Homo sapiens: one gene and its partner. The protein of the gene in region 1 interacts with the protein of each later gene in a pairwise test. Each region holds a gene or a part of one and is shown in the gene's direction. Other genes may lie near its edges.

Region 1 (3,500 bases):
GTTTTTTTTTTTCTTCTTGCTGGGGCATTGGAAATGTCAGAAAACCCAATTAAACTGGCTTAGAAATAATGGAAATTTTTTGGGCTCACATAATAAAAAATTTAAATAGTGGACCTAATCCAGTGGCTCACAGCATGTCCCCGGGGATCTGTCTGTTGTTTCTCTTCTGGTTGCCTCCCTTGGGGACGCAGGATAGCTGCTGGCTGCTCCCAGAGGTACGTCTTTTCTATTTGCTTTTTGTGGGAAGGTGATCTTTCAAAAAAGTGCTCTTTATGGTGGAGTTTATAGATTGTTGCTAACGTGGTCCGGTACTACTGACAGATAAACATGGTCTTACCCAATTAAATGAATACATACCAAAAGTAACTGTCTAATGAAATAAGACCTGTATTCATACCACTTTCTCTCCTCGTTCCTGACAGAACTCTCTCAGAACAGCCTAGCAAGCAGAAGGCAGTAGAAGTTTGTTAAAAGAATGGACAATCCAGCCCACCAAATAATCTGATATTGAGTGTTTGAATTATGGAGGGAAGCTAAACTTCATCCCCTGTGAGGCACCCATCCTGGGCTTCACTCACACTGGACTAGGGTGGGTCACGTGCCCACCTCTAAACCAGTTCCTGGAGTTGGGAGGGCGGAATTAGAGCTCAAGACTTCTTCCTCCCCTCTACAGCCACATTGCACTGGGCTCCTTGTGACACACGTGTGCTCCATGGGGGGTGTGTACCCAGGTAAACCTAGGGGCTCTTATTCAGGAGGGAGGGGGCACTGGGTGGTTAAAAACAGCGATTGTCACCATGGCAAAAACAAGATGTTTTTTATGAGGGAAATAAAAAATAAAGCAGTCCTTCCAAACTTTCCAGAATATAGATATAATGGAAACTTTTGTATATGCAAATGATTACTTATATATGTAGAGATGCAATATATAAAATATAAACAATCATCTTTCGTCCACATAAGATCGCCCTGATTTGTAGCATTTGCTAATTTCTGTGGTATAAATACTCCTACTGTGGCTGATGCCAGGCTTCCAGCATTATGTGACTGAGCACAGAGCTGTGCAGTGATGAGCAGCATCAGCAGGTGCAGCCAGCTCCGGGCACCACTGCACAGATCAGTGCACCTTCATATGCCCAAGGCTCGCAGCAGGGGCGGACCAATGCTGCATTTTATAGACAGAGTAAAGCCTGTCATGTAAGACTATTTATGTGAACCTTTCAGGACACTTGGGGTAAACACATTTATTTAGTAGCATCTTGACTAATAACAATTTCCTTGATCTAAACCTCCCAACAGCTTTTTGGTTCTAAATTATTATTTATTATTTTTCTACCTAGATTTTTAGACATTAGCTCACCCATTTTTTATACGGCTTTCTGTATTAGATTAATTGGTTTTTGCATGTTTTCAAATGAAGAGTGCTTAACAGCAGGGTTACACTTAAAGTAGTTATGTTAAGGTAATTCATAATAATGAAGACAGGCAAGTTGCTGTTTTCTGAGGTTCTCATTGAGGCTAATAGTCTTAAGCTACATCATGAGCCTTAAGAGCCAATGTTTGCATATGGGATGTATACCACGAGCTTCTAGAAGCTGGAATGTGGTAATTTTGTTATAGAAGATTTTATTTGACTCGTTCCTCATTTTAAGATGAGTTGAGAAAAGCTGGGTACTCTCAAAGTTTTTTAAGAATTTATTTTTCTGCTTTATATGCTGCTATCTCCTAGTTGATAGCTTGAACGGTGGTTGATCTAAAGAATCACATTTTTTTTATTACTAATTTGGTTAAAACACTGATATTTGTGAAATGGCTATTTCTGTTTGTAAAGATAGACCAATTTCACAGAATTGAAGTTACTGGCTAATTGAGAGGCTCAAAATGGTCCATCTTCCTTGGTCCTGCAAGAGTAATAAAAAATCCCCACAAAATACTGTTCTGCCACCTTACTTTATTTACAAAACACATTATTGGGCATATTTCAAATCGAAGTCTCATTTCTGTGACACTGGGTTTTGATTTTCTTTCTCTGCCATTGTAAACTAGCTGGTCTGTGTTAGATAAGCTTTTACTGAAGTAATATTGTGTCTTCCCCTGTAGCATTCTCTTTCTTGAGTGACCTTAGGACAGGGTACAGAATAAAATTATATGCTCTGCAGCACTCTTGAGGACACACTCATTTACTTGCTGCCAGATCATCAGGTTAGCCTTGTGCTTAAGCAAAAACACTGCTGCATTTGTGCCAAGTCAGCATTTTCCACAGGAAAGTAATCTGTATTTGACCTTTTTAGTAGAAAATGGAAATAGTTGCTTTCTGTCATACCTTTAGTGAATGATAGGAGACCTATTTCTGTACAGAATACATTGGAACCTCACTAGTACGTTATTGGTAAATAGTGTACAGTGTTCATCTGTCTTGATTTTGTTTCATTCAAGAGGTATCAGTTGCTGAAAGGAATGAAAGGAGCTTGTCCTTTCTTCTCACTTATCAGGTGGTCCTGTTGCTGGTAGTCCCTGAGATCACAGTTGGCTTCCAGCTTCATTTTATTCAGCATTTATTTAGCACCTTATCTTTGCCAGGAGCTAAGATCTTTAAGCTGAATTCATGTTGAGTTTTATAAAGAATTTAGTATGTCAAATAATTTGTAGAATTCTTAGTAACAGAATAGGATAAAAAGCAGTGGAAACTTCTCAGCAGATATTTCGAATTGGATAGTACTTCCTCCCCTGCAGGAAATATGGAAGGTATAAGAACTGCTACTAATTATGCGGAAATTTCAGTTTAGTAACCAGAAAGTTACTGATATACAGCTCCCCCCGCCCCACCCCTTTAAAAATAATAAACAGGGGCCAAGTGTGGAGGCTCATGCCTGTAATCCCAGCACTTTGGGAGGCTGAGGTGGGTGGATCACTTGAAACCAGGAGTTCAAGACCAGCCTGGCCAACGTGGCAAAACCCCATCTCTACTAAAAATGTATAAAAATTAGCCGCACGTGGTGGTGCATGCCTGTAATCCCAGCTACTGGGGTGGCTGAGGCATGAGAATCGCTTGAACCTGGGAAGTGAAGGTTTCAGTGAACCGAGGTCATGCCACTGCACACCAGCCTGGGCGACAGAGTGAGACTCTGTCTCCAAAAAAAGGGATGAATAATAGTAATAATAATAAACAGAAATGCTGTCTCTTTTTTTTTTCTTTTTTGAGACAGTCTTGCTGTGACACTGGAGTGCAGTGGCGTGATCTCGGCTCACTGCAACCTCAATGCAAGCCATTCTTCTGCCTCAGCCTCCTGAGTAGCTGGGATTACAGGCACGTGCCATCATGGCCAGCTAATTTTTGTATTTTTAGTAGAGACGGGGTTTCACCATGTTGGTCAGGCTGGTCTCTAACTCCTGACCTCGGGTGATCTGCCTGCCTTGGCCTCCCAAAGTGCTGGGATTACAGGTGTGAGCCACTGCGCCTGGCAAGAAATGCTGTCTCTTAAGCAAAGAAAAGGTCCCTC
Region 2 (3,259 bases), on another chromosome or scaffold:
ATGGCGCGATCTCGGCTCACTGCAACCTCTGCCTCCCAGGTTCAAGCGATTGCCTTGCCTCAGCCTCCCAAGTAGTTGGGATTAACAGTGCCCACCACCACACCTGGCTAATTTTTGTATTTTTAGTAAAGACAGTGTTTCACCATATTGGCCAGACTGGTTGTGAACTCTAGGCCTCAAGTGATCTGCCTGCTTCGGCCTCCCAAAGTGTTGGGATTACAGGTGTGACCCACCGCACCTGGTGTCACAGGTTCATCTTGTATTTTCCCATCTCAGCCCTGGAATCCGATGTTTCTCCAGAGAATCTGGGTTCCTCTTAGTGGAAAATGGTATTTAGAAGCCAAGGTTTTGGTGATAAGTATGCTCTTTGCTTGTGGAACATCTCTGCTCCCAGGCTCTCTCAGTGAACAGAGTTAGGGAGTGTGTGTGTGTGTGCGCGCGCGCGCGCGCATGTGCATACATATACACCTAAGTACACATGAGTTTACTCTGATAACATCCATTTCCAATCCAGCATCACAGAGTTGATCCTAGGTTCTTCCCTCTTCTCTAATTGTGAGAAACCTGGCTTCCATTACCCTTAGGTTATTTACTCATTTGATTAACCGCCTGCAGGTAAGTAATCTCCCATCTACACTGCCACGCCTTCTCCTGTATGGACGTCCTGCCTACCCTGCTCAGGCTCTAACTCCCAAGTCCAGCTTTCCCTGAGTCTGCAGCTGTCTTCCTCACACTCCCGTGGCCCACCACAACTTCCCCCCACCTCCTTGTCACTGTGGTCCCCTAATGGCGTTAGGCCTGAATGAAGAAGGGGGAAGGATGAAGAGGACATTGGTAGCTTGCCTTAACTCCCCAGGTAATTCTAATGTGCAGTGATTGACAGCCACTAAGATACATCACCTGACTTTGTGAGTTCACCATTCGGTCTGCAATGGGTTTTGGTAACTCAGTGGCTCTGTATGCCGTGCTGAAGGGGAAAAGGGCAAAGTGCAAAGGCAGGAGGGATGGAGAAAATATAGCAGCTGCCATTTATTTGTGTTTTTCCTACAGCGGTGGTTCTCCACCCTGGTTGCCCATGCTGGAGCTTTAACAAAAGCCAATGTGGACCCATTGCCCAGAGACTCTGATCCCATGGGTCTGTTTTGTTTAAAATGCTCTTCAAGGCATTGTGAGGCCAGGAAAACAAAGAACCAAGGCTCTCCCGGGTGCGGTGGCTCACGCCTGTAATCCCAGCACTTTGGGAGGCCGCGGAGGGCAGATCACGAGGTCAGGAGATCGAGACCATTCTGGCCAACATGGCAAAACCCTGCCTCTACTAAAAATACAAAAATTAGCTGGGCATGGTAGTGCGTGCCTGTAGTTCCAGCTACTTGGGAGGTTGAGGCAGGAGAATCGCTTGAATCCGGGAGGCAGAGGTTGCAGTGAGCCGAGATTGAGCCACCGCACTCCAGCCTGGTGACAGAGCGATACTCTGTCTCAAAAAAAAAAAAAAAAAACCCAAGGCTCTCGAGGCATGCATGCTGTTCAGCGAGCCCTGCCCTGCATTGCGAAAGGGTAGAGATTTGTTTATTTGTCAGTATTGAAAGCATGGCTTGCAAAGTTTTCCTGTTAAGAGTCAGATAGTAAATATTTGGGACTTCGTGGGCCTTATAGGCTCTGCTGCAATTACTTAACTCTGCTGTTACAGTGTGAGAGCAGCTGTAGACTATAGTAACGTACAGCCGGTGTGGCTGTCTTCTAAGAAAGTATTATTTACAAAAACAGGCAGGTTGCTAGATTTGACCTGAGGGTGTAGTTTGCAGAGCCTTGGTAAAGGTTTTCAAATTTGCATTTTAAGCCCTCCAATTTCAAGTTATGCTATTGGTGGGGAATTTTAATTAAACAGAAAATAATCACCAATATTGGCTCAAATATTTCCTGATTTAAAAAAAAATCTGCTCTTGTTCCTATAAATAGTATATAAGATGTAATCTTGCCCTGGGTTAAACCAGTCTACAGAGGTAGATCTCGCATTTGCTTTTGTTTTCTTCTACTTCAACTCTTGTCATGATCCCAAATTAAACAACTAGCAACAGAAATGTTCAAATCTGTCAAATCCAAGTGTTAACAGACCTGGGACCAGGGGTTCCTCATAGTGGCTTAGCACAGCATACAGACCACTTTCCTTTGGCCCAACCGGCCTTGGGGTCTGGAGCACCAAACAGGCCCTGAGGAAGCGTGCAAGGAACTGGAATGCGGGGAAAGTGATGAAATATTTTGTTGGTTGGCCTTTGCTTGTTTGCAAAATATATCCAATGCTCACACCTGAGAGACAACAGACATCCTTATTTGTGAATAGTCTGCACTAGATAATTCAGATTTCAAGTCATCTGTCATTCGTACTTGATAATGATTTGTTCTTCATTTAAAGTGGCCTGGGTACAGAGCAACATCCCCTGTCTTTATCACATGAGCTCTGCCTGAGGCAGCTTCAGCAGGTAGGCAGGCAGGCAGATGGAGCACAGCCCATTCTCTGCTGGTGCACTAGGAACAGCAGCACGTGTGGTGTTAGCAGCTAATAATTAAAACAACGTTTAAGCAGTGGGTTGAGATTTTTAAACACAAACCAACTCAAAAACACTTCTCTGCTTTCTATGTAATAGTGCTCACATCATTTGTATGATTGTCTCGTCTCTTTAAAATTGGAAATATTCTTGTTTCCCCAAACTGCTAATAAGCTCTACTGACCCATGCTAAAAATAAAGCTCTTTCGGCTGGGCGCAGTGGCTCATGACTGTAATCTCAGCACTTTGGAAGGCTGAGGTGGGTGGATCACTTGAGGTTAGGAGTTCAACATCAGCCTGGGCAACATAGTGAAACACCATCTCTATCCCAAATACCAAATTAGCCAGGCACAGTGGCAAGTGCCTGTAGTCCCAGCTACTCAGGAGGCTGAGGCAGCAGAATCACTGGAACCTGGGAGGCGGAAGTTGCAGTGAGCCAAAATCGCGCTACTGCACTCCAGCCTGGGCAACAGAGCAAGACTCGATCTCCAAACAAACAAACAAAACAAAACAAAACAACAAGAAAAACAGAACGTGGTGGCTCATGCCTGTAATCCCAGCACTTTGGGAGGCCAAGGTGGGTGAATCACCTTAGGTCAGGAGTTCAAGACCAGCCTGGCCAACATGGTGGAACCCCCATATCTACTAAAAATAACAAAATTAGCCGAGTGTGGTGGCACATGTCTATAATCCCAGCTACTTGGGAGGCTGAGGCA

Evidence for each region.
Region 2: the proteins of LMNB1 (region 1) and ABCG8 interact in a two-hybrid assay, tested with the Homo sapiens proteins (one large-scale study listed by BioGRID and IntAct).

The regions. Positions count from the first base shown.
Region 1 is NC_000005.10:126,829,136-126,832,635, forward strand, and holds part of LMNB1 (lamin-B1), read left to right. Parts: intron 1-3,500. UniProt on the Homo sapiens protein: Lamins are intermediate filament proteins that assemble into a filamentous meshwork, and which constitute the major components of the nuclear lamina, a fibrous layer on the nucleoplasmic side of the inner nuclear membrane.
Region 2 is NC_000002.12:43,880,230-43,883,488, forward strand, and holds the end of ABCG8 (ATP-binding cassette sub-family G member 8), read left to right. Parts: 3' UTR 1-2,759; downstream 2,760-3,259. UniProt on the Homo sapiens protein: ABCG5 and ABCG8 form an obligate heterodimer that mediates Mg(2+)- and ATP-dependent sterol transport across the cell membrane.